Linked DNA regions of Homo sapiens. The protein of the gene in region 1 purifies or fractionates together with the protein of each later gene. This does not show direct contact. Each region holds a gene or a part of one and is shown on either strand. Other genes may lie near its edges.

Evidence for each region.
Region 2: the proteins of CLEC4E (region 1) and SFXN3 purify together in Homo sapiens (affinity purification with mass spectrometry; 2 studies listed by BioGRID and IntAct, with this or other methods). This does not show direct contact.

The regions. Positions count from the first base shown.
Region 1 is NC_000012.12:8,532,805-8,546,745, forward strand, and holds CLEC4E (C-type lectin domain family 4 member E), read right to left. Parts: upstream 8,102-13,941; 5' UTR 7,994-8,101; coding exon 7,957-7,993; intron 7,144-7,956; coding exon 7,051-7,143; intron 6,503-7,050; coding exon 6,413-6,502; coding exon of another isoform or gene 6,396-6,412; intron 4,463-6,395; coding exon 4,311-4,462; intron 3,402-4,310; coding exon 3,286-3,401; intron 2,006-3,285; coding exon 1,834-2,005; 3' UTR 501-1,833; downstream 1-500.
Region 2 is NC_000010.11:101,026,303-101,043,073, forward strand, and holds SFXN3 (sideroflexin-3), read left to right. Parts: upstream 1-4,931; 5' UTR 4,932-5,232; exon of another isoform or gene 5,233-5,640; intron 5,641-6,011; 5' UTR 6,012-6,171; coding exon of another isoform or gene 6,172-6,180; intron 6,181-8,389; coding exon of another isoform or gene 8,390-8,392; coding exon 8,393-8,553; intron 8,554-9,194; coding exon 9,195-9,365; intron 9,366-9,641; coding exon of another isoform or gene 9,642-9,700; coding exon 9,701-9,799; intron 9,800-10,183; coding exon 10,184-10,259; intron 10,260-10,364; exon of another isoform or gene 10,365-10,420; coding exon 10,421-10,506; intron 10,507-10,773; coding exon 10,774-10,901; intron 10,902-11,079; coding exon 11,080-11,129; coding exon of another isoform or gene 11,130-11,471; exon of another isoform or gene 11,472-12,068; intron 12,069-12,340; coding exon 12,341-12,390; intron 12,391-12,872; coding exon 12,873-12,920; intron 12,921-13,186; coding exon 13,187-13,283; 3' UTR 13,284-14,939; downstream 14,940-16,771. Other genes in the region: PDZD7 (PDZ domain-containing protein 7), read right to left, coding at 3,692-3,917. UniProt on the Homo sapiens protein: Mitochondrial serine transporter that mediates transport of serine into mitochondria, an important step of the one-carbon metabolism pathway.

The DNA.
Region 1 (13,941 bases):
AACTGTAAAGACAAGTTTAGTTTTATAAACCTGTCTTTAAAACTTGTCTTTAAACTTAAATTCTAAATATATATGGAGAAATAATATGGAATAATATTTCCATATGTCTTTCAATCTAGAAATAAAACTTAAATTATAGCCACCTTCAGGGAAACACCAATGAACAAAAAAAAAGTCTTTCAGCATCTCCTTATTGATGTTCATGATTTTAAAAAAGGGAATTAGAAAGTTGAAAGTATGTTTAAAATTACTTTTAGGTTAAATAATTGGCTTAAAGATGTGTTGATTTGAAAACCAGATTGTCACAATGCCTAAGAGAAATAAACTTTTGCAATGAAAGCTGATGTGTTATATTCACTTGTCCAGTTGAATTTTCTCATTCAGTGATTACACGTGGTGTCCAGTGATTGAATTTTGAGGGTCTCCTCATGGCACTTTGTGCAAGAAACATGGTTATGAAAGCTGCCACGTTATTGATGTACTCTTTAATAACGTCATCAGTATTGGTAGAATTTTATGCAATAAATGAATGGGCTATTACTGGATACATACTCAGAGAAATATAAATCTTTCTACCATAAAGACACATGCACACGAATGTTCATTGCAGCACTATTCACAATAGCAAAAACATGGAATCAATCTAAATGTGAGTCAACAATAGATTGGATAGAGAAAATGTGATACATAGATACCATGGAATACTAAGCAGCCTTAAAAAAGAAGATTATGTCTTTTGTGGGAACATCGGTAGAACTGGAGACCATTATCCTTAGCAAACATGGGAACAGAAAACCAAATACTGCATGTCCTCACTTATAAGTGGGAGCTAAATGATGAGAATTCATAAACACAAAGAAGGGAATAACAGACACTGGAGTCTACTTGAGGGCGGAAGGTAGGAGGAGGGAGAGGAGCCGAAAAAAACAATATTAGGCACTGGGCTTAATACCTGGGTGATGAAATAATCTGTACAACAAACCTCCACGACATGAGTTTACCTATATAAAAAGCCTTTAACATGTACCCCCGAAAGCTAAAATAAAAGTTAAGAAATAATGGATGGGCTTGAGACAGGAAAGTGTGGAGATGAATGTTCGCTTAGAATAAATTGACTATTGGACTCGGGTCCTAGCTGAGCAATAGATACAAAATCTGGTGAGATCCATTCAGTCAATTGAAAATAAGGCAGAGCAAAGGAAGCCCCAGGGATGGGTGGACTTGGTTACAGCCTGTTTGGAGCTGATGGCTGGCATGCCCTTCCCTAAGAAGGTGCAGTGGAGGCCTGTAGCCAGAAAGGCCACACCGGTATTCTGAGCAGGAATAAGTTTCATGACTTGAAGAAGCTTCTTACTCATTATACAGGGGAGTAAAGAGACGATATATGCTTGGGCAGGAGATAAGAACGGTATGAAACCAAGAAGAGAAGACAGACTTGTCAGAAGCTAGAAAGAAGAGGACCTGCTACAGAGCCCGGATTCAGGAGATTTTTGGAAGGCACCTTCCAAAATCCCCTTCTTTGCTAGACTCTGTCTTGGCTCCGTGTCCCTGTACTTTCATACGAACACTAAAAAATGAGGCAAATGTAGCAAAAGGTAGTGAATTGCTTTGTAAATTCTGGGAAGAGGACCTGAGACTAACGTAGAGAGAAAATGCACTTCAGCCAGTAACATGAATTATAACATTTAAAACTACTTATTTTTATTTATATCAGAGTAACAAATACTTATGAAGTCCTTTGAAGTTCAGCGCACAAATTTCTCGTGTGGGGCGGTGGGTGTGGCCATGTTCTTGCTCTTCCTTCTTTACACATTTGAGTTGTGCCTTCTGTTCTTAAAGAGATTTTCCTTTGTTCAAAGGATTTATTCCTACCATTTCACAAATCCGAAAATAATTGAGGAAACAGGTTACATCATTCCAATTTTGCCTTGGGTTTGAAGAGTCTCTCATGGTGGCACAGTCCTCCAGGGTAGCTATGTTGTTGGGCTCCCCTACATCCCAGAAGCTGAAAAAGAATGACATAGGAGACTTAAAATCCCAGCAAAAAGAGGTAAAGTAACCTAATATACTAGGCAAATTACATTTGTGTTATTTAACCTCACAACAATTTTGCGAGGTAGGTATTATAATGTCCATTTTATTGAAGAAGAAAAGGAACCTCAGGAAGCTAAACTAGTTGTCGAAGTCACAGTTTGTGAGTACTGAAGCTGAACCGGATCTTTCTGACTTTCTATTCTGTCCTGTTCCTTTGTTCCTTTTCTATTCTGTCCTGTTCCTTAGCTATAGAATGAGAAGTTATGGGGAAGATTGATATTCTGATAGATTTGTTTTCTTCACACTCATACCTCATATCGGCTTAGCTCTCTTTATTCTGCACAGAGTGTGTATTAACTTAGGTGCATCCTGCAGTGATGTTACAGTGTGGTAGTGAAGCAGCATTTCTAACATGTCAGAGTATCTCTGTTGTACTCTTAGAACTGCTCATTAGCTAAGTCACTTAACTCTGCTGAGTTTTAGTTTCCTCAAATGCTAAATAAAGATTAATAATACTGATACATTCCAAGAAAGTGTAATTTAGGTAAAATGAAATAATAAATGAGAAAAAAAATTAAAAATGCTATGCTCTATCAGGAAGAATACCTAATGGATGCTGGACTTAATACCCGGGTCATGTTATGATTTCTGCAGCAAACCAAACCACCACGGCACACGTTTACCTATGTAACCTGCACATCCTGCACATGTACCCTGGAACTTAAAATAAAAGTTGAAGAAAAGAAAAAAGAAAAAACTCACTCCCTAACAAATCATGAGAATCAACATATATAGCAAAATATTTTATATATCAATTAACCAATCTAACAAAAAAAGCATATCCACAATAAAAAATGCTATGTTCTAATGACGTGAGGCTATTATTAAGGAGAAAAGAGACATTATCAAGAGATTCTCATTTTTCACTGCATAAGAACCTGCTGTCTTTCTCAACTTACTATTTTTTTCCTCATTTCCTTCAGTTTTGGGGAATAAGACTCTTAATTCCACCTCTCGTCTCTTTTGCATTCTCAGTGAATGATTCTTCAGTTCATTTTCATTTATTATTTCCCCTTTATTCTTGAGACAATTCCAGGAAAGGAGAGAAGTGGGTGCTTGTACTTCTCCTTCATCTTTTCTACCTTAGCTCTTCTCTTTCCTGCATTTAATACCACCACCAATAATGGACCTGATCTATTGCAGGTAACAGAAGGAGGTTTCAAGAACTCCTCTCAATAGGAGGGTAATTACCTCAGAGACTTTGTCAAAGGTGTGCCGTCCACCCATTGCCACTGACCCTCGACAACCTGGTCTGACAGTCCAATAAAAAACTCTCTCATTTTAGGTTTCTTGTAGGAAAGGAATTCCTATGGAAGATACAAAATAAAAGGAGATCAGTTATTTTAGTTTTGAATAAACGTTGCTAGTAATTATTATTCAAAGAGGTAAGAATCTGGATGAGATCCTAGCACTTTGGGAGGCCGAGGCGGGTGGATCACCTGAGGTCAGGAGTTCAAGACCAGCTTGACCAACATGGCGAAACCCTGTCTCTACTAAAAGTATAAAAAAATTTGCCAGGCATGGTGGCGGGTGCCTGTAGTCCCAGCTACTTGGGAGGCTGAGGCAGGAGAATCGCTTGAACCTGGGAGGCAGAGGTTGCAGTGAGCCGAGATTGCGCCACTGCACTCCAGCCTGGGCAACACAGCAAGACTCCATCTCAAAAAGTAAAAAAGAATCTGGATGAGAAATAACAGATAAGTGAAACTGTAAGATCATGAGGATTATCTACTGATTTTTTTTTGTGGTAAAATATACATAACATAAAATTAAACTGAAAAAATAACCTTCAACAGAAAAGGAGATCCTCAATAATTCTTTCAAAGTTTATCTACTATTATTGGTGGCCAAATTTATTGAATATATCTAGCGCAAAATATTATTAATCACAGCTTAAAGAAAACGGACAATATTTGCTTCTCTTCTTTCATATAATATGTTCATAAACATAACGATTCGTCTAAAATTAACACTTCCAACCCTCTTTTTCCCCTTGCCTAACTAAAGGAACTCCACATGGAAATTCCCTTTTTCTTAGGTTCTTCTAGGAAGGAAAATAAATTAAGGTAGGCAGTGACTTTACCGAAATAGTAAGAACAGCATGCATTTTAGTACATTCATTAACAATAGTCATTGGGGGTCAAGCACTGTGCATATGTATGAAAAGAGAGGTGGACCATGTCGGGAATGTTACATTGGCATCGGAGGACTCCAGCTACCTGCTCCTCCTGTGAGTTGATAACCACCAGGTGAGCCCCCATGGCTGAGCAGTTCTTTAAACTTAACGCCCAGGAAATGGTGTCAGTAGAAAAGAAGTAGCAGCTGGATTGAAAATATTCCCAGTTCAATGGACAACAATTCTTGACTGAACCTAGGATGAGAGATGTTTCAGTGAGTGTCCCAGGTGAACCGAATAAGAAAACCCAAAGCTTCATCTGGCCCCATGGAGTCCTCATTTAAGTCAGAAGCCTTGGAATCACTTGTTCATACCCTACATCTTAGTATCTAAGACTTTAGATAATTCCAATGTCAAGAAACATAAACAGAATGTTTTTGGTCTTTTGAACGTAATTCTCATTCTCTGGATGTCAGTGCCAGGAAATGCAACTATATATGCAAACTATCTTAGTTATGCTATTGATATAGAACCTTATTATCTGTTCTTAGACTACTAATGTCAGAGAAATTTATGCATTTTATTTGGGTGACCCCCAAAGAGCCATCTCTTATGTTACCTAAACAATGTATCCTCAATCAAATCTCCATACTGTAGTATATAGATGGGTTAGATGTGGGCGGCAAGCCACCCAGGCGCTGAGGCAAGAGACAGAGGACACGAGCTGTTCCAGTATAATAAAATATAAAACAAGAATAGTTATACCAGATATAGATCTTAGATATGATTATATATGAATATCATTAATCATTAGTTTGTAGCAATTACTTTTTATTCCAATATTATAATAATCCTCGCTCTATAATCATAGCCAAGGAAAAACCAGGCCGTACAGAGCTACGAGCTGAGGGGACATAGTGAGGTGTGACCAGAAGACAAGAGTGCGAGCCTTCCGTTATGCCCGGACAGGGCCACCAGAGGGCTCCTTGGTCTAGCGGTGACGCCAGCGTCTGGGAAGACGCCCGTGGCCAGGCAGACAGACTGTGGTCTAGCGGTAGCGTTAAGTGTCAAGGGAAAACACCCGCTACTTAGCAGACAGGAAAAGGGAGTCTTCCTTTCCCTGGGGGAGTTTAGAGAAGACTCTGCTCCTCCACCTCTTGTGGAGGGCCTGACATTAGTCAGGCTTGCCCGCAGTTATCCGGAGGCCTAACCGTCTCCCTGTGATGCTGTGCTTCAGTGGTCACACTCCTAGTCTGCCTTCATGTTCCATCCTGTACACCTGGCTCTGCCTTCTAGATAGCAGTAGTAAATTAGCGAAAGTACTAATAGTCCCTGATATGCAGAAATAATAGCGTAAGCTGTCTTTCTCTCTGTCTCCTCTCCCTCTCTGCCTCGGCTGCCAGGCAGGGAAGGTCCCCCTGTCCAGTGGACACGTGACCCACATGACCTTACCTATCATTGGAGATGACTCACACTCTCTACCCTGCCCCTTTCACCTTGTATCCAATAAATAACAGCGCAGCCAGACATTCGGAGCCACTACCGGTCTCCGCGCATTGGTGGTAGTGGTCCCTTGGGCCCAGCTGCCTTTTCTTTTATCTCTTTGTCTTGTGTCTTTATTTCTACATGCTCTCGTCTCTGGACACAGGGAGAGACCCACCAACCCTGTGGGGCTGGTCCCTACAGTTAGATTTCTTAGAATTACAGAACTTTTGCCTTTGAGGTCTATTATAAATAATTCTTCTAACTTCTCTCAATTTAATGGTGAGAAAATTATAGCTCAGAGAAGGAAGTCACTTTTTTAGTGTCATGTAGCATTTTGCTAGGACTTGCAACAGGATGACATAGAAGAGCATAGAGAGTATATTTGTGAGATATTTATAAATTCTCTACTCCATACGTTTTTTCTCCATCTCATTTTGGAAGTAGGTGAATGAAAAAAAAGGTACACTCCTGGGAATAATACCTTCCACTTCCAGATTTACTGTTCAGACATACCCCTCAAATTTATTCTAAAAGTTTACTATAATGTCCCCAAGACTTTCTGCCCCAATGCTAATTGCATCACCAAATTTCTAGGATTTTACATTTTGCTTTTGAAAAATAAGACCTAATCCAGCTATATCTCACCTGTCCCAAAGTCAATCTAGAAGCCAGAAAATGTTGCTTTGTAAATTTTGATGTTCACCTTTGGGACTATTATACCTGATCCATAATTGTAGCAGGAGAGCTCTGTGAAATTCTCAGGTAGCTGAAACTTTTTCTCATCACAGGTTTGAAAGATGCGAAATGTCACTGTAAAAGAAAGGGCATAATGTTTGTTAGTCTTATTTCGGTTAAAAATGTCAGTTCCCTCAGTTTTGTATTTATAACAAAAGTGCCAATAATTATCATGTTTTTTCTTACAATCTGCTTTTTCTTACGACCCAGAGAAAATAGATATGTTTGCACTACCTCTTATGCCAAGTCCAACTCTCTCTACCCTTCCTTCCAAAAGTAATTAGTCATATCTCTGGTGCCGACCAGTAGTTCAAGCTCTAAGGCAGACTCTCCTAGAGAAGGTTACACTAATGATAGAGGCTGAAAGAGGAGGATTCAGGACTGCCAAGGAAGTGAAAAATGTCTATCATGAAAAGTAAGTCACAGGTGATTAAAATTCAGAAACAGTTCCCTGCTTGTTGAGGTTTCTGGTTTGAGAAATAACCTAGAGATTAATAGGGAAAAAAAAAAGGGTGAAATAGAAAGACCCTTTGAGGGCAAAGAGAGTCTACAGGCAGCATGGAAGAGTTTTCTCCTAATATGCACCAGGAAGAATTAAATTGAATTTGACCTTCAGAACCCACCAACACATCTGGTGATGAAACAGGCACTGAGAAATAGGATGGGGATCCCAGCAACAGTCCATAAGAACATTTGGGAAGAGAAGCATCCTCTCTCTGTAGAAAGAAAGACACAAACATGATCAATCTTCCCTAAGCAAGGTACAAAAGAGATAGAAGAGATTCTTATTCATCCTTACTTATTTCCTTCTACTTCCATTGTTTGTACTGAGTAATTCCCAAATTTCAGCATGCTTCAGAATCACTTGGAGGGTTTATGGAAACACAGATTGCTGACCCTTACCCCCAGAGTTAGCAACTCAGTAGAGTTTGTATGGAACCAACAAGTTCCCAGGGGCTACTGCTGCTGCTGGTCTGAGGACCACACGTTTAGCACCCCTGGAGTAAGACTCTGACTCATGAACTCAGATATACAATTTTTCCTTTCTAAGTCTCTCAGTTAAATTTTTTTCAGTATTTTCTAAGGCCCCCCTTCTTTCTTTTTCTTTCTTTTCCCTTTTCTCGTCTTTGCTTTTCTTGTCCTTCTCCTGATCTTTTTTTTTTTTCTGTGTCTCACTTTTCAAGCGCTTTGTAAATTAGGTAAAATGTTAACAGTCATCTAATAGTTCCTCTCTTCCTCCCATTAAACATTTTACAGACAAAGAGAGTTCCAGAGAAGTGAAGTGACTTGCCAAAAGGGACACAATGTATTGCAGAAAGGGTGGAAACTGATAGCTCTCCCTTAGCTAGAGGCCAGCAGGCTTTCTGGTATAAGAAATAGTCTTTAAATCTCTCTCTCTCTCTTCCTCTGTCCCCCCACTTTTTTTTTTAACTTCAGTGAATACTTTTCTATTGTCCTGTCTTTCACCATATTTATCACTTGTTCCAAAAAGAGATCTATGGAAGGAAAGGAAGAGTTGCAGATTTTACCTGTGCATTGTGTTTCAGATGATTTAGATGAATTCATTTTTTCTCTCTCTTTGGTTTTTTGTTTCTCTCTCTCTCTTTTTCTCTCCCTCCCTCTCTTTCTTTCTCCTCAGGAGTGTTTTGTTGGTAAGATTCAGGGAGAATGAATCTTGAAAGATAAACACTTTGTCTTTTAGGAAGTTCAGCTCCGATAGATGTAGAATATTAACTTGTTCTGTGGCTACGCATTAAGTCAGGATTTCCTTTCTTGCATAAGGAGGACAAGGAAGTTTATTGGACAGCATGTCAGTTCTCTTCACTCCATGTAACAACAAAATGAGGAAATTATGAAATGGTAAGCATCAACACAAATAGGCTAGCCATGGGGAAACAGGAGAGTTTTTTTTTTAAATGTTGTTTCGTTTCGTTGGACCAAATGTCTCTAGTTTCTTCAAGGCATAACTCATCCCCCAGTTTTTCCTTGACAATATGGAGCTCACCTCTGCACTCTGAATTTCACTTTGGATCTGTACCATCCACACATTTGGTAACTGAAAAGAAGACTTAGACAACATAGCACAAAGCTGGGCATATAGTGTATGTATTTAGGACATGGCAACCTGAATTTTTTCATCTTTTTTTTTTTTTTTTTTTTTGAGACAGAGTCTCGCTCTGTCGTCCAGGCTGGAGTGCAGTGGCATGATCTCCGCTCACTGCAAGCTCCGCCTCCCGGGTTCAAGCCATTCTCCTGCCTCAGCCTCCCGAGTAGCTGGGACTACAGGCGCTCGCCACCACGCCTGGCTAATTTTTTGTATTTTTAGCAGAGACGGGGTTTCACTGTGGTCGTCAGGATGGTTTCAATTTCCTGACCTCGTGATCCGCCCGCCTCAGCCTCCCAAAGTCCTGAGATTACAGGCGTGAGCCACCGCGCCCGTCCTCTTTTTCATCTTTTATGGTTTTTCTTTCTTCTTCATTTGCAGCTCTTGAATATTCTAATGTTGTGGATTTATGTCCCTCTTATCTTATGCTGACTACTAGGCTGCTACTACTAGGCTGACTACTAGAGTCCCCCTCAGCAGGACAGCCTCATGTGATTAGACCACTTTGAAACTCAGCTTAGTTTTTCACAACATAACGCAGCTTCTGAAGTCTCAGAGACCCAGCAGGCAGTTTAATTCTCCTGTTCTCAATTATTTGGGGATTTTAGTTCTATGTTACAGCCTACAGTAGGAGAAATGTATTTGAAGGTCAGAAAAAGCAATTTCAATTAGATATTAGAATTTAATGGTTCTCTGGGCCGGGAGCAGTGGCTCATGCCTGTAATTCCAACACTTTGGGAGGCCAAGGTGGGTGGATCATTTGAGGTCAGGAGTTTGAGACCAGCCTGGCCAACATGGTGAAACCCCACCTCTACTAAAAATACAAAAATTAGCCAAGTGTGGTGGCACGCATCTGTAATTCCAGATACTTGAGAGGCTGAGACAGGAGAATAGCTTGATCCTGGGAGGCAGAGGTTGCAGTGAGCCAAAATTGCACCACTGCACTCCAGCCTGGGCGATAGAGTGAGACTCTGTCTCAAAAAAAAAAAAAAAAAAGAATTAATGCTTCTCTGGAAGAATAGTTAGATATGTGCCTTCTCCTTACTTAAAGATACTTAAGAATAAGATCACACTGGTCTCAGTTTATTTAAGTTCACGAGTCAGGAGGCATAAGTATGATGTACATGACTTGGTAAATCCCCACATCCAGTGACTCACGAATTTTCCATGTGTGAGAAAATATTCTTGTTCTCAAAGGGACTTTTTATTATTTCAAGGTACTGGTCAATTTTCTCTGCATTCTCTGTTTTATAGTAATACAATTTTAAAAATATCTTTAAATTATATATGTGTATATTATAGAATATACCCATATTTAATATGTGTATTCTCAGCAAATAGCTTTTGATCAGTAAAAAAAGAGAAACTATCTAGTGGATGAGCTATATGAATTATAAAATGATGAACATAATTACCACAGTCCATCTTTTATTAATTACAATCAACCAGCAACCATCAATATTACTAAACAATTGTATGTTAATTTTTATCAATATACAATTAAACAGAAATCAATAAATTAATATTTTTTCCAGCCAAAATGTTTTTATATCTTTTGTTTCATTGATTTTCCCCAAATTATACGAGTAATATGTTTTATGATTAATACTATGAAAAGCATGTGACAAGTAAAAGCCTTCTTAACTATCCTTAGTGCATTCTTCTAAAGTTGACCATGCTTAATGATTTCTTTTTTGGGGGGGGGGATTAATTTTTATTTATTTTTATTTATCTTTTATTACACTTTAAGCTTTAGGGTACGTGTGCACAACGTGCAGGTTTGTTACATATGCATACATGTGCCATGCTGGTGTGCTGCACCCATTAACTCGTCATTTAGCATTAGGTATATCTCCTAATGCTATCCCTCCCCCCTCCCCCCACCCCACAACAGTCCCCAGAGTGTGATGTTCCCCTTCCTGGGTCCAAGTGTTCTCATTGTTCAATTCCCACCTATGAGTGAGAACATGCGGTGTTTGGTTTTTTGTTCTTGCGATAGTTTGCTGAGAATGATGGTTTCCAGCTTCATCCATGTGCCTACAAAGGACATGAACTCATCATTTTTTATGGCTGCATAGTATTCCATGGTGTATATGTGCCACATTTTCTTAATCCAGTCTATCATTGATGGACATTTGGGTTGGTTCCAAGTCTTTGCTATTGTGAATAGTGCCACAATAAACATACGTGTGCATGTGTCTTTATAGCAGCATGATTTATAATCCTTTGGGTATATACCCAGTAATGGGGTGGCTGGGTCAAATTGTATTTCTAGTTCTAGATCCCTGAGGAATCTCCACACTGACTTCCACAATGGTTGAACTAGTTTACGTCCCACCAACAGTGTAAAAGCATTCCTATTTCTCCACATCCTCTCCAGCACCTGTTGTTCAGCAATAGATTCTTTGATTTCCCTTTTTAAATATCATCCAGGAACTTATCGTCTAAGTCCCTTTTCTAAACTATATTGCCTGTCAATATTTCAGGCAACTGAAAAAGAATCAGTAAAAGCTGTAAACATCTATGCCATACGAGTATTGTTAGTATCTACTTTTCTTTGATGCCAAGAGAAACATCACTCAATTTTAGCCTTGGGGCAGATTTATTTTTTGTCTTTTCATCTAACATGCAATCACTAACTGATCCCAGGGCTGCTGCTTCCCAGGTTGACGGCCAGCCCTTTACCCTTGAACTGCCATCTATCTGTAAGCCACACTGCTGCCTTGACAGCTGACCAGAGAGAGGGGCCTATTCAGCTATAGGTTTAGCCAACTCCTCAGGGGAACCAAATTTATGGTGACCTGTCAGCCACCTGACTGTGCATGCATTGGGTAACCCCATTTCACATTCTTGAGTATCTCCTTTCTATTCAAGGAGGGAATTCTGTGCATTTCATTTCTTGTTGGAATGATGATATGATATAAATAGGATGTTATGAGTTTTCAAATAATTTTATGTCCTTCAGTACAAAAAGCAGTTTCAACTAAAACCCAGTAACAAGCTAGCAATTCCTTTTAAATGGTGCTACTTCAAGCTGCAGCCAGGTAGCTTTTTATTACAAAAATCCCACAGGCAGCCACTAGGTGGCAGTAACAGGCTTTTGCCAGCGGCTCCAGTCAGCATGGCTTGACTGTGTGCTGCAGAAACTTCTTAAATCGTCTGTGTTTGGGACTCGTGGGGCCCCACAGGGCTTTACAAGGGCTTTTTAATTTCCAAAAACATAAAACAAAAAAAAATACAAATGTATTATCTTGCTCAAAACTTCAGTCAAATTTAGCTTTTTTCTTGATAACTTTATTAACAGGGGTATGCCATTTCTCCACCACATTAACAAGCCAACATCTTTGCACCTCTTGCTTTCATTTTGGAGCTGGCAGAGACAATTACTTATTTTTGGTTGTCTGAGGGATGCCTCTCATCTCCCCTGTCCAGGTGATGCCTAAGAATTTTACCATTTCCCCTGGACCCTGTTCTTTAGTTGGGTTAATCAGCCTCATATGATTAACAAGCATTATACAGTAATTCAATCTTTGCTAGATCTTCAAATTGAGTTAATATGACATTAATGCAGTTAATAATATTACTTTCTAATTGATCACATCTAAGTATCTTCTTGCCAAGTGCCGTGATAAAAAGGAGAATTTAAATAACCTTATGGGAACATAGCAAATGTATACTGGAATCCATCCCACATGAATGTGTATTAGCTTTGATTTTCTCCCTAAATAGAGATAGAAAATAAGGTTTTAGGCAAATAGATAACAGAATATTACTGTCTTTTAGCTTTTAGCAAAGCTTGAATTGTGATGCCATCTTGGGTACAGCTGATGCTGTTGGAAGCATGATTTTATTCAGTCCTCTCTAACATACAATTCATCTCCAGGATCCACCAAGTTTTCTTCTAGGCCATACTGGATTATTAAACAGGGAATCTGTGGGCATTAACATGACTGTGTCTAACTTATTCTTAATTAAAGCTGAAATTCTTCCTCCAGCCTATTCTTAATTAAAACTGAACCCCCCATCCTATATTGTTTTAAAATAATCATTTGAATGTGCTTAAGCAATTCTAAGGGTTCCCATCTAGCAGGTCCAATTAAAAACAGGATGAAGAGAAGATTGGCAGTCTTTTCCAATGGTTTGGGTAAGGAAAGAGTCCGCCATTCAGACATCATGCTCATTTTTAAAATATATTCTAGTTGGACTGAGACAAAATCATACATTAATTTCATTCATAAATACCGTACTAATATGAGGGACTTGAGAATCCACAGGTTTTGGTATTCAAAGCAGGGTCCTCAAACCAATCCCCCACTGATACCAAGGGATGATTGTATCTACTTCTGGCCATACTATCACCTGCAAGTTTTCTGTATTTAATTATATTTCCCTTTCACTTTTCATTGGCAGGTTTAGGTGTGACAGTAGATTAAGTACCAATGTCCAGCAATCCAATAATGTTTCTTCATCATCCCTTACCATTTTACTCATACTGATGCGTATGGCCTTATGTCTTCTGCTGGGGATTGTGCCAAGAGACATTGGACCACATGTCACTCACCTTCCTCATAATCCTCTCCTTTACTTTGTACTGTTTTAGTCTGCACTGACTCTGAAGAGATTATGTATGTATATATATACATACATACATATATATACACACATATACATATATAGAGAGAGCATGTGTGTGTGTGTGTAATCATCAGATTTTAAAATTCAGGTTAGGACAAATTGAACAAGTCTGTTGTGTAACCTCTTAAAGTTTGAGGAGCTGGTGGGACAGCCGAACAACCTAATCTCTCACAGTGATCCATTAACATTTTAGTACTTCCCCCATCTATCTCCTCCCCTTTCACGCCACTTAAAAAATATTAGAAATAACTTTTAAACTACATTTTAAATTTTGGAATAGTTTCAGATACATAGAAAAATTGTCACTATAATACACTGTACAGAAAGTCCCTATATGGCCCACATCCAGTTTCCCAATTATTAACATCTTACTTTAATATGGCACATTTGTCATAATTAGTGAACTAGCATTGGTGTATTATTATTAACTAAAGTCCTTTATTCAAATTTTCTTAGTTTTTGCCTATTTTTTTTTCTGTTCCAGGATTCCATCCAGGATCCTTGGCTATGACAGTTTCCCAGACTTTCCTTGTTTCTGATGACTTTGACAGTTTTCAGGAGTACTGGTTGGGTCAGGTATTTTGTAAAATGTTCCTCGATTGGGGTTGGTCTGATGGTTTTTCATGATTAGGCTAGGTTTATGGGTTTGGGAAGGAAGACCACAAAAGCAAGTGCCATTCTCATCGCAGAGTATCAAGGGTACCTACTATCAATACGACATCATGGTTAATGTGAACCTTGAACACTCGACTGAGGCAGTATCTGTCAGGTTTCC
Region 2 (16,771 bases), on another chromosome or scaffold:
TTTTGTACTTTTAGTAGAGACAGGGTTTCACCATGTTGGCCAGGCTGGTCTCGAACTCCTAACCTCAAGTGATCCACCTGCCTCGGCCTCCCAAAATGCTGGGATTACAGGTGTGAGCCACCTTGCCCAGGCCAGGTAAGGTTTCTGTAAGGACTCTGATGGGTGGGATTTTGATGGGTGGGGGGTAAGGGGGGGCACTGATGAGGGGGAAAGAGCCAGGGAGGCTCAGCTGTGGGCCCTTGAGGAGGCCTTCCAGTTACAGAAAAGCAAGAAGGCTGGAGGGGTAAGTTGGGTCCCAGGTGAGAAGCTGAGATTTCTTCATAGGTAAGGGTTACTCTAGAGGTGTTTGACAGGGAGAAATCACACACACACACACACACACACACACACACACACACACACACACACACTTCAATTTGATCTAAGAGAAGTCAGGTTACAGGGCACGGCCAGGGCAGCTCAGAAAGAAATCCCCGAGGGCAGCCTGGGGGGAGGGGTGGTGCAGGACAGATGTGGGGGGCCAGGGCTTTCCCAGCTGATTAGATTACACAGATCTCAGGACACTTTCAGCCTTAGCCAAGGAGCCTTTTACTCCCTTGCTACCAACCCTCTCTCCTCAGGGCCTCACTGGGGCCTCCCTAGGGCCCTAGGTCAGGGAATGTGAAATCTGAGATTTTCCAGGAGCCTGAGCCCTGCAAGGATGGAATCTTCTCTACCTCCACTGCCCCAGCCTCTCCCCCAGGTGCTCCACTGCAGCCCCGGCACTATCCTTGCTTCCACTCTTGCCGCCTTTAGCTATTCTCTATACAGTACCCAGAGTCAGCTTTTACATTAGCTCATGTCTTTTCCCTGATTAAAAACTTCAACACCTGTTCCTGCTTCTAGAACTCCAGTCTCCTCACCATGCCCTATAAGGCCCTGCCTGGGCTTTCCTCTGCCCACCCCTCCGCCCTCCCCTCCACCCTCCCCTCCCTCACTGAGCTCTGGCCACACTGATCTTCCTGTTCCTCATGGAGGCCAAGCCCTTCCAGTGTTCCCTCTGCCTGCAGTGCTCCTGCCCAGGCCTTTAGAAGGTCAGCTCCTCTTCCTCGTTCCCCTCCTGGCTCAGACACCACTTTCTTGGAGAAGGCTTCCTGGAGTGTCCTCCCTTCCTCCCAGTGAGTACCTCTTGTAGGGCTTCTCAAAGCGTAATCCTGGATCAGCAGCGTCAGTGTCATCTGAGAACTTGCTAAAAACGGGAATTCCTTCGCTTTACCACAGACCCACTGGACCAGAAGCTCTGGGACTGAGCCCTGCAATCTATCCCTGAATGAGCCTTCCCGGCAATTCTGAGGCATCTGAGGTTTGAGAAGCACCATTCTATCATGTCATCAGATGATCACATTCTGACTCTTCCCATCCTTTGTCGTCGTTCGCTTATTTGTGATTTATCTGTCTCTTTTCACTAGACCATAAGTTCAATCATGGTGGGGACTTCGTAATACTCTTCTAGTATATCTCCAATATGTTGGACAGTGCTTGGTATTTGATAGGTATTTTTTTTGAATAAGTGAAAGAATAAATGGATGGATGGATGGTCAAACTAGGAGAGTGAGGAGAAATGCATTAAGGGTAATGCTTTCCTGGATTAAAGGTAATGCATTTTCTCTGGGACCAGTTGAATTTAAGGAGCTGGTGGGATCTCATGGGGCCGATGTAGGTGGCAATGTCACCGTTTATTCCTTATCAGTTACTTTACTCCCCGGGAGTGATCTAAATAATAACATGGGGCAGGGTTCCAGGCTGCGGTGACTTGGGAGATACCTGTTCTCAGGCAGAGGGGAGAATTCTGAGCTCAGAGGGTCCCAGTCCAGTCAGAGGAGAAGCCAAGTGGTCAGAGCAACTCCTCAGTCCCTCACTGCTAGGAGATGCTGCTTCCTTGGCTGCACAGTGGCGCTAGCATGAGGCAGAGGGAGAAAGCAATCATGAAACCCCTGGAAGAGGATCTTTAGAGGGACAGTATAGGCCAGGCATGGTGGCTCATGCCTATAATCCCAGCACTTTGGGAGGCTGAGGCCGGAAGATCACTTGAGCCTAGGAGTTCAAGACCAGCCTGGGCAACATGGTGAAACTCTGTCTCTACAAAAAATAAAATAAAATAAAATTAGCTGGGCTTGGTGTTGCATGCCTATAGTTCTGGCTACTCAGGAGGCTGAGGCTGGAGGATCACTTGAGCCCAGAAGTTTGAGGCTGCAGTGAGCTATGATCACACCACTGCACTTCAGCTTGGGTGAGCGACAGAGCAAGACCCTTTCCCTCTTAAAAAAAAAAAAAAAGACGTTATAAACAGCGCTTGCATCATACATGGGCAAAGGGAAGGGGAGAGAGAGAGAAACAGAAAGAGTGTATCAGAGGGAGTATAGCATAGTTCTTTTAATAGAATGGGACTAATAAAGACAGTTATGCGGTGCCTGCTTCCCTTTTCCCCAATGTCTCCTAACTCCTCTGGGGACTTCTGCTCCCTCACCAGAATGACCGTGGTGACCCTCAGCAGTGCCCTGTGCTCACCAGAGGGTGAAGCATAGACTGGTGTATGACAGGGGTGAGCGTGCCAGGGCACTGGTGGAGGAAAGCCTGCTCCCTGAGCAACATGCCCCACCCTGCTCCAGTGGCCTAGGGAGGGGAAGAGAGATGCCCTGCTGGGTCAGAGGGGGAGGAGCAGGGCCTGAACAGTCCAGTCTGGGATCCAGCCAGGGGAGCTCTGCTGGCTAAGAAAGAGGAGAGGAGCTGGAGATATTTATCTGGTCCTGCTCACAGAAAGCTCAGACTCAGGGGGCCTGGCTCCGCACCTGGCATTCTAGGTCCTGTCTTGCTCATCAGCTGTTAGTCACCTCACATCTGTCACTACAGCCAGGCTGGCTCCTAAGTGCCCACCTACCATGCTCCATGCTTTTCACTTCCAGCCTTTGTTGGTGACAGCTCACCCCTGCCACCAGCTGTTCTTATTGCTCTGTCCTGCTACACTGTAGATTCCTGGAAGGTGAAGAGGGAGCCTGATTTCTCTCTAGGTCCCTTGTAACACCTCCCCAGGGCTGGTATAGAATTGTGCTCCATGAAGCGGCATTAAGCAACTACATAAGCTTAGGTCTCCCCTTCCCTGATGGAGCTCCCTCTCCACCCTCAACCCTCCTCTTCTGAACATTTGCTGTGCTGCCTTCATTCCCCTCCTTCAGCACGGAAGCCCTGAATTCTGTCTACCCGCTTGGGCACTGACTCCTCGCAGCCCAGCACAGAGCTTGTCACACAATGGACTGGTTGATGGAGGATGTCCTTCTTTATCCTGCCCCATCCCCCAGAAGTACACACAATGGATCTGGAGAAGGGCAGAGCCCATGGGAGAGAGGCCAGTTCAATCCCCTGCCTTGTCCACCAGGGGCTAGCATACCACACGCATGCCTGTCCCTGCTGCCATGGCCTTCTTTCCCTCCTCTGACCCTTCTACGACCCTGGACCCCTGCAGGATTGGCCTGGAGGAGAGGCCAAGGGCAGGTGAGGAAGAGTGTATGGGTTCCCAGGCGGCCTGCCACCTCCCTGTGACTCCCATCTCTTGAATTCCCCCAATCATACTGGCTCTGCCTCCTCCTGCTGAGTTCCCATTGTCCCCTACCCCCACCCTCCCCAACCCAGGCCAGTGGCTGGGTCCCGCCCCTACCTTCGATGGGGGAGTTGATGAGGATGACGCGTCCCATGGGCGATGAGGCTCGGATTCCGCGGGGGGGCCCGTTCAGCAGCCGTTGTTGCTTCCTTAGCAGGTATCGCGTTGCGGTGGAGCCTGAGTCGCTGCCTAGGTGGCCTCGGGAGGAGAGGGAGCTCAGAGAGCCGGAGCTCAGGTCTCCTAGGCCCAGTGGGTCGAAGCCCACTGCGAAACCCTGCGCCATGGCGGCTGGGCTAGGGCGGCACCCTACAGGTCCAGAAGGAATCTGCTAGCTCTGGAGAGGCCAGCCCTGCGTGCTTCGAGCTCCATGAGCCTCTGTGCGGGGCTGGGGTCTCAGTAACGTGAAGGCCCTCGCTTGCGATGCCTCTCAGAAGTGTGAGCTCCAGGCCTGGGCAGGGAGAGCAGGGATGAGGGAGGGGTGTAAATGTTTCCCCTGCTGCCCCCTAAAACTTCCACCCCTCCCCCTGGTTTAAGCATCCTGCCCTCCCATGCCTTAGGCCCCCCTCCTGTCTCACCCTAGGCCAGAGAACTGCCCCGTCCAGGCACCATCTTGGACTCTCGCTGACTTTATACAAGGCAGGTGGGAACCTTTCACCCCTCATTCCTGCTCGGGGCTGAGTCATCTACTCCCGTCCCCAGTCCTCAGTAGAGGTTGAGAGTGGAGTTGGGATTACTGCGGGCCCTGGGGCTTAGAGAGGTGTGAGACAAAAGAGAGGTCAGGACAGCTCATGGCATCACCTCTCTCATGCATATGCGGGCATGGAGGTGGCCCGGGGTGGGGCGGGGGCTGCGTGGGGCGGGCTGGGCCTCGAGGATAGGGCTTCAGGACCTTAGACAGCTGAGGCCCAGGAAGACCCCCAGACACCCGCGGGCTCCAGGCTGCGGCTCCGGGTCTAAAGAGGCTGCATGAACCTCTCCCAAGCTTTGGGGAGGATCTGCTGGAGAGGGGTCCCACGACATCCCGCGCAAAACCCAGGGCCAGTTCCCTCAGAGAAGCTCTGGGACCTAGAATGAAGCACCCCAACATCAACTCGGCCCTCCAGGCCCCCCACCCCTTTGTGCCTGGTCGGCCTCACCTGGTCGCTGGTGTGGCGCCGCCAGCCTTGTCAAACCACCCGCAGGCGAGAGCTACTGCCGCAGCCGGCAAACCCCACCCACGCTGCGCGGAGGCTGCGGGAATTGGGCTGGCCTGCACCGCCCCGGGCTCCCATTGGCTGGTAGGGCCGCCAGTCATTCTATTCCGGCACCTCCCTTAGGCGCCAGGGACAGCCGAGCGTTACCTGGTCCCGGGCAGCGGAGTTCTTTACCCACCCCAGTTCTGGTTCTGACGCCCTAGCTCATTCCGCAAATTTAGGGCTTGGGTCTGGCTTGTTCCCCTCCGGCTCGAACCACCTCTTCTCTGAGCCGAGCCAGCTACCGGGGCTCCTGGAATTGCCACCCCTCCCTGGGCACCCTTGAGGCCTCCGTGGAGGGACGTCACGGGGCAGAGCGGGACGTGAGCCTGAGTTTGCTGCAGGCGTGCTCTGTGTGGTGGCTGGGTGAGTTGTGAGTATGTGCGTGGCGGAGGGGGTGCCTTCTTCACTTGCATCCTCCTCCTCTGTCAGAAGGCGTCTCTGGCTACCCAGTTCTGGAATGGTCGCAGGGTGGGGCAGCTGGTCCCAGGACCGGAAGAATCCTAAGAATCCTTCTGATGCACTTGCTCGGATGCAGACCGCGAGGTTCCTGGGGTCGTCTGCCCCTCCACATCTCAGGGGTGGGGCTACGGTCTGGGGTGCAGGGCTAGGGGTTGGGAGCGTAAGGAGACCAGGGACACAGTGGAGCTAGGGGTTACAGAGGGGGAGCAGGGAGAGGGCTGGGGACATAGAAGAGGCACAGGCACGACAGGAACGGGGCTGTGAAGTGATGCGAATGCCGCGCTGCTACAAGAGGAGCTTGTGGATACTGGGGTAGGAGCCCAGGGGGACAAGCAAGCCAAAGGCCATTGCCAAGGCAGCCATCAAGTAAACAAGCCAGGCGGTAACCCGAGTCCCTCCCGGCGCGCCAGCAGAGGACCGCCCCTCCACACCGCCCACCTGCGCCCGGGGCTTTCTCTCTGGGCACCTAGACCGCTTGCTGCAGGGCTGGGGGTCTGCTGAGGCCCGCCAGGGGACTGTAAACCAAGGGAGCAGCGCCCGCGGCTCCAGCCCCTCCTCCCTTTGGCTGGGGAGGGGGCCAGAACTGATCCCCGAGGTGGGATTGGCTCTGGGAAGCAGCTTAGGGCCTGGTCCAGGTGGCCCAGGCTGGGGGCATCGCCTCGAATGACACCCACCGCCCTCAGGTTCTGCCAATCCCCGTGCCCACCGGGTGGGCGCGGCCGGGAAGCTCCTGCCCCTCCCTGCTGGTCGGCGTCACGCGTGACGTCCCGCGTGATGGCTGGGAGGGCCCGGCGGCGACAGCGGAGGCAGAGAGGAAGGCGGTTCTGAGAGCTTCAGAGAGCGATGGAAAGCGTAAGTGCTCGCTCTCCCCGGCGGGCGGGGTTCTGGAATGGGGGTCAGAGAAGGAGGCCTGCCTTGAAACTGTCTGTCCTGGTGCAGTCAATGTCCTCGGCTCTGTGGAGGTCCAAGTCCACAGGGCACAAGGGAGGTTGGGGGGAGGAATGTCAGGGTGGGGCTGTGTGTAGTCACACATTCAAGTGTCTGCAGATGGGCACAGTGTGCGCCTGTAAAGGTGTTTGAAGGCCGGTGTATACAGGACACCTCCACTCTGTCTGTATGTCTGGGCAGGGTGTGCATGATAGTGTCTTTGTGTGTGGGTATGTGAGTGTGAGGGGAGGGCGTCTCTGCCTCTGCGGGAGGAAGTGTGGCTGGAGAGGATTAGTCATTCTGTAGGATTCTGCCCAACTCAGCCAGATGGCTGCACCAGGCTTTCCTCTCTGTGCTGGGTGGAGGGAGCAGCCACTGAATCCTGCTCTTATCCGGAGGCAAGTGGCCCAGAGAGAGGTGGATGAGTGTCTGTGCCAGCCCTGCCTGGCCAGGGACCAGGGAGAGCCTGGGGTCATTCAGTGTGAGTTGGAGAAAAATGGGTCTGTAGAGAGGACTTGTGCGTGCCCACATGCACACACATGGCTGACATCAGAGTCCCCTGATTGAGATCTGGAACAGATAAGCCCTGGGTGGCCAGTAAGGCCTTGCTCTCCTCCAATCAGGGACTGGAGTGTGGGATGTCTTGTGCCATTTTCCAAAACAGCCTTGGGGGTTTGTATCCAGGTCTCAGTGCAGCTGGGGCCTAAAGCTCACCTGAGCATGGGTGTGTAATATATATATTATATATTCTTGTGCATCTGTAGCACACGTGGCTGGGATGTTTGTTGCTGCTTATGTGTCAACCACATATATGTAAATCCTCACTCATGAAAATCTGTACCAGGATAGAGCACAAGGAGATCTGTTTTCCTGTTTCTGGTCTTCCCTTCCCCCTCCTCCAGTGGCTGCAGGTCCCTGGGCTGGGACATTGCCCAGGAAACAGCTCCTCCCCACACCCTTGCTTACCTACCTAGTTGAAGGGGTGGCCTGCCCCTCCACACCTGTGGGTATTTCTAGTAGGGTGGGACAAGAGACTGAGAAAAGAAATAAGACACAGAGACAAAGTATAGAGAAACAACAGTGGGCCCAGGGGACCGGCGTTCAGCATACCAAGGATCTGCACCGGCACCGGTCTCTGAGTTCCCTCAGTTTTTATTGATTATTATTTTCATTATTTCAGCAAAAAGGAATGTAGTAGTAGAGCAGGTTGATAATAAGGAGAAGGTCAGCAAAAAACATGTGAGCAAAAGAATCTATGTCATAATTAGGTTCAAGGGAAGGTACTATGCCTAGATGTGCATGTAAGCCAGATTTATGTTTCTCTCCACCCAAACATCTCAGCGGAGTAAAGAATAACAAGGCAGCATTACTGCAAACATATCTCACCTCCCACCATAGGGCGGTTTTTCTCCTATCTCAGAATTGAACAAATGTGCAATCGCGTTTTATATGGAGACATTCAGTTCCCAGGGGCAAGCAGGAGACAGTGGCCTTCCTCTATCTCAACTGCAAGAGGCTTTCCTCTTTTACTAATCCACCTCAGCACAGACCCTTTATGGGTGTCAAGCTGGGGGACGGTCAGGTCTTTCTCATCCCACGAGGCCATATTTCAGACTATGCATGGGAAGAAACCTTGGACGATACCCCGCTTTCAAGGGCAGAAGTCCCTGTGGCTTTCCGCAGTTAATTGTGCCCCTGGTTTATTGAGACTAGAGAATGGCAATGACTTTTACCAAGTATACTGCTTGTAAACATTTTGTTAACAAGGCACGTCCTGCACATCCCTAGATCCCTTAAACCTTGATTTTATACAACACATGTTTTTGTGAGCTCCAGATTGGGTCAAAGTGCTGGGGCAAAGTGGCTGGGGCAAAGCTACAAATTAACAACATCTCAGCAAAGCAATTGTTTAAAGTACAGGTCTTTTTCAAAATGGAGTCTCTTATGTCTTTCCTTTCTACATAGACACAGTAACAGTCTGATCTCTCTTTCTTTTCCCTACATCTAGTCACCTTGAGCTCTTGAAGGGACTGATGATAAGCTCAGGGGCCAGGGCAGGGGCACCAAAGATTTCCCCTAGCTGGAGCCCTTGGACCCTTGGACTCCCGCTCTGACCCTTATCTCTGTCCTGCAGAAAATGGGTGAATTGCCTTTAGACATCAACATCCAGGAACCTCGCTGGGACCAAAGTACTTTCCTGGGCAGAGCCCGGCACTTTTTCACTGTTACTGATCCTCGAAATCTGCTGCTGTCCGGGGCACAGCTGGAAGCTTCTCGGAACATCGTGCAGAACTACAGGTGACCACCCCTCAATCTGACCCTGTGTGCCAGGATCTCATTTTCTGTGATTAATATAATATGTTTTGTACCTGCCTCCTCAAGCTTGACAGTGACCCTGTCCCTCAATCCCCTCACTCTCTAGCCCCGTCTGTTGGCATCACAGAGCTTTAACCCAAAGGATTTTAGGGCATTTGGGTTGAGAAGATGGCATTGATATTTATGGGAGGGGCTGCTCTATGCATCACAAACCTCTACAGGGATCTATCCCATTGCGGGGTCACCCTCTGCAAGGATAGAGGTGCTCAAAGTGGAGTCCCAGGAAGATAGGAGGGAAATCCCCTTATCTTTGGGAGGAAAAACTCTTGCAATGCTTGCAGCCATTTTTGACCCACTGGAAACCACCATCATCCCTGACCCAGCATTTTGGCAGAAACAGAAGGGTACCCCTCTTTGTGTGGCTATAAGGGAAATAGAAATAGGAGCCTCCACTTCTGGGAAACTTTGGCCCTCTCCCAAAGATAAGGAGCTTCCTTATGCTGAGACTGGGGGCTGAAGTTCCTGGTTCTCTGTCCAGAGTTACCCTGAGCTGGGCAGGTGGGGCCTGTGAGGGCAGATCTGCCCCCTGGCATAGCCTGTCTGCTCCTTGCCAACTTCTGCAGGGCCGGCGTGGTGACCCCAGGGATCACCGAGGACCAGCTGTGGAGGGCCAAGTATGTGTATGACTCCGCCTTCCATCCGGACACAGGGGAGAAGGTGGTCCTGATTGGCCGCATGTCAGCCCAGGTGCCCATGAACATGACCATCACTGGCTGCATGCTCACATTCTACAGGCAGGTCTTGTCCCACGTCCCCTTCTTCAGTGCCCTAAGCTAGAGCATAGCTTGACTAGGTGCGCTTCTTGTCTGGGCCAACTGGGTGAGTGAAAGATTGTGTCAGAATCGCTTCCATTCCTCAGAATTCAGCCTCAGGAGGTCTCTCACCCCAGAGACAGTAGGTGTGTTTGTATAAATGGGGGTGGGGGTACATAGGGGTTACCAGAACAGGTTCTAGGGCCATTAACTGGGTCCCTTCTTAGGCTTGGGGAATAACCTTTGGTTTCATTACAGGGGTCTAAAGATGAGGGCCACTGTAGACGGGGCAGAAGTGAGTGTCTTTGTTCCCTCAGGAAGACCCCAACCGTGGTGTTCTGGCAGTGGGTGAATCAGTCCTTCAATGCCATTGTTAACTACTCCAACCGCAGTGGTGACACTCCCATCACTGTGAGGTGAGAGCCAGCCCCCAGCAGCAGCTGCACTGTCCCATCTGACCCTCTCCTCCCAGCCTGCAGTGCCCTCTCCTTTCTCTCCGGTTCCCTGTGGACCATGCAGCCAGTGCTCAGCGCCCTCTCCTCAGCCTGCCCCACCCCGAATTACCCTGCCTAACTGAAGGCATGAGGTCCTCTTATGTATGCTGTGGGGGACCCACCCCTCTTCACAGGGTGCTACTGGGGCTTCTAGACAAGTTTACGCCGGAGATGGAGGGAAGGCTTCTTCTGCAAGGAGCTTCCCCTTTTATGCCTCATGTATTGAGGACTTGGCATATCCCTAAAGGAAAGGGCCACCTGCTGGACTTGTCACCTCTCCCCGTGACCTGGCTTTTCCACCCACAGGCAGCTGGGGACAGCCTATGTGAGTGCCACCACTGGAGCTGTGGCCACGGCCCTGGGACTCAAATCCCTCACCAAGGTAAAGGCCCCTCACTCCCCTGACCACCCCATTCATCCTCTATCTGCCTCCTTCTTCCTCATCACACCTCCAGTTCTGACCTATATGCCCCCTATATCTCCCCAGAGTCCCTCACCACCCCATGGCCCTTAGGGCCACTGAACAACACCCTTCCTCCCCAGCACCTGCCCCCCTTGGTCGGCAGATTTGTGCCCTTTGCAGCAGTGGCAGCTGCCAACTGCATCAACATCCCCCTGATGAGGCAGAGGTGAGTGACCCCGGCTCCTGGCATGTGCATGCCCAGAATGTAGCACACTGTCCATCCACGCAGACCACCTCAGAATGGGGACATCCCTCTCCCTCCCCAGACATGAGCTGCTGGGCCCTGGCTCAGTCTGACCCTGGGATCCTCAGGTGGGAGAACCAGCCTTTGAGCCTGGGGTGTGTGAGGGGACCCTGAGGAGCCGCTGCTCATTCGGGCATTGCAGGTGGGATCCGGGGCCTGTGATCTGACCCCAACCCCCCTCCCTTGCAGAGAGCTGCAGGTGGGCATCCCGGTGGCTGATGAGGCAGGTCAGAGGCTTGGCTACTCGGTGACTGCAGCCAAGCAGGGAATCTTCCAGGTGGTGATTTCAAGAATCTGCATGGCGATTCCTGCCATGGGTAAGGCGGGAGTGGCTGGGTGGGGCATAGGAGACTCTGAGAGAAGCAGGTGCAGTTCTCAGGGACTTTGGAGGACTCTGGGGAGAGAGGGAGGAGCTTTGAGGGGGGTCACCCTTCACAGTTCCTGACTTTAACTCCACTACTAATGTTCTCCTTCTTGGCCCTGCTCTCCCCACAGCCATCCCACCACTGATCATGGACACTCTGGAGAAGAAAGACTTCCTGAAGGTAGGCGACTGTACCTCTCTTGTCCTGGAATGGGCGATGGCTGGGAGAAGTGACCAGGCCCCAACTCTCTCTCCAGCCTCGCCTGATTCTCTAAGACTTGCCAGCCCTTCTCCTGACCCCTGCACCGCCTCCTCCACCTTCGTTCATTCAGCAAGAATGAACTGGGCTGGGGTGAAGGAACTCTGCAGGGGCAGGAGGAGAGGACAAAGGAAGGAAACCAACTTCATCAGTGTTACTCCAGTGGCTTCTGACACACAGAAGGGGACTGTCATAGTCATGCTTGATCTCATGCTCATTCTTTTACCCCCTAGTGCCTCCATACTGAGAGGTACACACGGGTGAACACGCACACACAGACATGAACAGGACACGAAAGCAAAGCACAGGAACAAGCTCTGGCTCATTCACAGAATCATTTATTCACAAATGTATTGAGTGCCATGCACCAGGCATGTTTTAGGGCTGAGGAGATGGCACTGAACACAATGGTTATGGCCCCTGTCCTCATGAAGTTTATAGTCTGATGCAGAAACCAATAAACAAGGAGGCACCCAATAAATACATTCTTAGAAAGTGTAATATGTGCTTTGTAGGAAAGCAATGGGGGTAGTGTAATTGAGATTCATGGGGGAGAGCTGTTTAGATAGGATGATCAGAGAAGGGGTCTTTAATGCCGCAAAGGATGAGGAGAGAGCCAAATAACGCAGAGAAGAGTGTTTGGGGTACAGAAAACAGTCAGTGCAAGGGCACTGCAGTAGGAGGGGCTTGCACATTTGAGGAACAGGTTGGTGGTCCCTGTGGCCAGAGCAAATTGAGAAGAGTGCCGAGGAAGAGATGTGCTTGGAAAGGGTCAGATTCATGCCACTGGGATGGGAAGAGGTAAGTGGAGGTTCACAGGAGGTTTCCTGAAGAAATCAGCTCCTGGAGGAAGTGAGGGAAGAAAAAAAAGGGCCAGGGAGTGCCATGGCAACCAATTCTGAGAGGTGAGAGGTCATGGGATGCCGGGGAGGGTGATCAGCAGACAGGCCTGGCTGGAGTGGAAGGGCGTGATCTGGAGGTCCCAGCCCTGTCATTGCCTTGGGAGAAAGAAAACGGCCACAGGTCTAAGGGCTCCAAGGCAAGGCTGATGGGATAGAGCTATGGTGGGTGAAATGGGGTGACAGTGAGGCAGGGGACACAAGCCGTTCCATTGTCTTTCTGTCTCTCCACAGCGCCGCCCCTGGCTGGGGGCACCCCTGCAGGTGGGACTGGTGGGCTTCTGGTAAGTGTGCAAGGAGTTAGCTGGGGTGTGTGGGAGTGCCTTGTCCATGGTGGATGTGGGTGGGTATGGATTGTCTTTAAGATGTTTATAGACATCATCCATTCATACATTCAGTGGGTGTGTGTTTGGAACAACTATAGGGTCTACTTTGTGTGTTACGGGGTGGTCCCTGTCCTTGAAGGTCAAGATCCTAGTGAGGGGGTTCCAGTCTTCATCTATAAGAGGAAACCATGGAAATGTACCTTTTGGTGCCATCCAGGAGATTCATGCCCATTTAATTCCTGATTCTGCCACTTACTGGTTGTGGGGCTCTCTTTCCTCAGAACCTGATGTCCAGGTTGGGTTTACTATTCCTAAAAGGTCCTTTCAGCTTTTATCAATCTCCACCCCTAGGGCCTATCTCCAAGGATGGGGTGGGGTGCAGGGAGGGAACACCCTAAGGCCAAAGCTTTACAAACCTTTCCAACACTTGTCTCCCCCAGCCTGGTATTTGCAACCCCCCTGTGCTGTGCCCTATTCCCCCAGAAGAGGTAAGTGCTGTCCCTGGGCTGGGTGGGGGACTCTGGATTGGACTCTGCATCTCTGGACCAGCTGACCTAGGGTCTTCCAGGGTGTTCAGGAGGAGGCCTGGCAGGCACTCCACTGATTCTGGGAGTGGGGGAATGACAGTGAGCCAGTCCTTCTGGCAGTAGAAGGAGAGGATTTTTCAGCCTGGGAGGAGGTGGGATGGCAATCCCTGGGCCTGAGTGGGGTTGGATTCAGGGGACGTTAACTGGCCTGTGCTGTTCTATTGCAGCTCCATACACATAAGCAACCTGGAACCAGAGCTGAGAGCTCAGATCCATGAGCAAAACCCCAGCGTTGAAGTGGTCTACTACAACAAGGGGCTTTGAGGAGGGTCAGCCTCTGTCCCCTCCCTCACTTCCTTGGGCTGCTGCTTTAGTGGAGTCATGTCACCCCTACCACTTGGCTATCTGCCTAGCACTGGGCAGGGGCCTTGGTGGGCAGATGGCAATTGAGGGTAGCAACCTATTAGGGTGGGGGAGGGACCTCCATAAGGCTTTTCCTCCCTTCTCTGGTTTCAAAGATCAGAGCACATAACCCCTCCTGTGCTTGAGTGTCCATGCATATACATACATGATACACATGTGTATGTGTACATTGGGTCCTGAAAGCTAGAAGCAGGCATGCTAGCCTAGTATGTTCTGACATCTGGCTTCCCTTCTCAGCCTCATGTCCACCTGCCTGCCAGCCAGGCTACAGGTGTGACTTCCTTCTCTAAACTGTTACACCAGCCAAGTTATTTTTGATGGCACCTCATCCCTTCTAGAAATAGGAGGAGCCCCAGGATCTCAGGACAGAGACTTATAGACACTAGTAGGACAAAGCGGGCTGAATCCTTCAGGTTTCTGATACCTAGCTCCCCAAGCTGACTGGGCTGGCAGAGGAGAACATGTTGAGACAAGGGAGGCAGGGGACTTATGCATCCCTCAGTGCCATCCCTTGTATCCTGGAATAGCTCCATTTCCCCTCCTCCTCTCTACCAGACAAAGGAGTGCCTGTGTCCTGTACTGCCCTCGCTGTCTCCCCCACCACCCTACTTGACAGCGTGGGCATCTTCAGGCACAGCCTTGGGAGTTCCTGGTGTGCTCTGACATCATGACCTCAAATCTAAATCCTCCAATCCCAACTCCCTTTCCCAAACAAAAAGCCACAGAGGCAGAGCAAGCATTCCCCTTTAAGAGCTTCCACTGCACCCCCTCCCAAGGGACACAGCGGTAGGAATGGTGCTTAAACTCCACAGGTATCAGAGAGGGTGTAACTAGGACATCCTCAAGGGCAGCTAGGCCCCGAATGTACAATGTTAAGACAGGGAATTTTGTGTTCCATTGACTTTTTTTTTTTTTTTTAATGGAGTTTCACTATTTTGCCCAGGCTGGAGTGCGATGGTGCGATCTTGGCTCACTGCAACCTCTGCCTCCTGGGTTCAAGTGATTCTCTTGCCTCAGTCTCCCGAGTAGTGGAAATTACAGGTGTGTGCTACCACATCTTGCTAGTTTTGTATTTTTAGCAGAGATGGGGGTTTCACCATGTTGGCCAGGCTAGTCTCGAACTCCTGACCTCAGGTGATCCACCTGCCTTGGCCTCCCAAAGCACTGGGATTACAAGCATGAGCCACTGTGCCCAGCCTGTTCCACTGACATTTCTTAGACATTCAGCAAAACCCCCACCTTAACCTCTTTTCTTTCTTGAGGGTTGGTCCTGTCCCCACCTCCACCCTCCCACCCCCTGGAAGAGGAAGGGCCCGGGCATCAGTGGCTAGTCCAAATAAAATATGGGCTTGGGGATGGAATGGGTGGTGGTAAGTTCACAGAGTGTAGTTAGATCCCAACTCCCATGACCTCTGGCTTCAGTGGTGGGTGGGGCAGGGCAGATGAAAGGGCTTCAGTGGGAACCTCTGAGAGCATTTTCCTGTTCCCCCTATCAACCGCCCCCAGTGATAACATCTGTGAAGCCAGCCATTACTCAATAAACTGCAAACTTGTCTACTTCTTGGTCTTCACTTGATTCCACGTCCTGAGGGCCCAGAAAGAGTCCCCTGCTTGCAGCCTTCCGTCTCTCCCTGGACTCTCCCCAAGTCCAGGTCTTGTCTCATTCCTCCCCCTGTGTAGGGAGCCTCATGCCCCAGCAGAGGGAGCTCTGAGATTAGAAAATCAGTCCTCCCTCTGGCACCCCCAAGTATGTACTAAGACAGAGGGCGAATGTAGATGCTTTCACCTTTTTTTTTTTCCTTTTCTTTTCTTTCTTTCTGTTTTTTTTTTTTTTTTTTTTTTTTGCGACAGGGTTTCACTCTATCACCCAGGCTGGAGTGCAGTGGCACCATCATGGATCACAGCTCACTGCAGCCTCAACCTCACCAGTTCAATTGATCCGCCTGCCTCAGCCTACCAAGTAGCTGAGACTACAGGCACGTGCCACCACACCCAGCTAATCTTCTGTATTTTTTTATAGAGATGGTTTTTGCCAAGTTGCCCAGGCTGGTCTCCAATTCCTGGGCTCAAGCCATCCACCTGCCTTGGCCTCCCAAAGTGCTGGGATTACAGGCGTGAGCCACCGTGCCCGGCCTAGATAACCAGTTTTAATTTCATCCTGTCCTGTCAATCACCAAGCCCACTGGAATCCTTAGTCAACTCTTAAAGCTCTTTCTGCAGTTACACTTTTGGCCTTTGGCAATCCCCTTGAAAAGAGGCCTTGTATTGCCAAAAACTGCAATCACTTTTGCACCAACCTAATACTTTTACTGGAAAATCTATGTAACATAACCCCATGTGGGGAGTGAGGTACAGAAATCTCTGCAAAACAAAACCCTTAAGAACATTTTATAACAGAATTATCTGTGCTCCACAGGTATCACTAAACCATGTCAGAGAAAAGATTGGCCAGGGCACTAGTGGGCTTCTCTGTCATCTTTCCTTCCTAATTCCACACCAGTTTCTCAAACACGTCAAAAGAGTTAGCTATAGGGCACATCACAGGCTCTCTAGGGACAAACCTTAGCCAATCATACCTTCCAAACTGCCTCCTTATACTTGGAAATTTCCTCAGAAGTCAGCATTTGGGCTGACGCAGCACGTTTTTCACTAGAAAGTGCTCTGCCCCATTCTTGGGTGGGCCTCCTGTCTTCCTCCCAGACCTCAGACTTTAGGAACTTTCTCTGGAAGCCTGAATTGGTGTCTTTGACCTTCCCTCCCATCTTCTTCCCCTTGCCTGGCCTCATTTGCTCCAGAGCCCCCATCCTGCCTATTATGAAGACCCGAAAGACCACAACCTTCCCTCTCTCCCTGCCCATGTTTTAAGTTTAGCCTGGCCATAGGGAGGTGGTCAAGTAGGGATATTCTGCTCCTTTCCAGGATCACCGGAACCAATGACACCTGCTTCCTAAGGACAGGTAATCAGGACCAGCTTCAACTCTGGCACTGTGGGGCTATGCCAGACTCTGGCCTAGTCCTGCTGGGTCTGATGCCCTACAGGTCAGAGCCAAGCCCCATTTCCTCCCAGTGAAGCCTGTCCATTTCAAGCCCCGCCCCCGGGCCCTCGCGGTCAAAAGTAAGCCACCACCTTCTGGGAACAGTCAGAAGCAGAGTCCCGCCCCTGCTGTGGTCCCTGTCAGTCAAAGCTAGGCTCGGCTCCGCCTCCTTCCCGTTTCCCGAGCAACGGCTTTAGTACCTCAGGCCCCGATTCTCGCTCACCTTCCGGGTCGGAGCCTGGAAGCTACGTCTCAGATCCGCCTTCCCGCTGACCTCGATCCTGCGCCGTTAAATCCACCAAGTCCCCCTCCCTCCTTTCCAATATCGAAACCCACGAATTCCCTAGCGCCAGC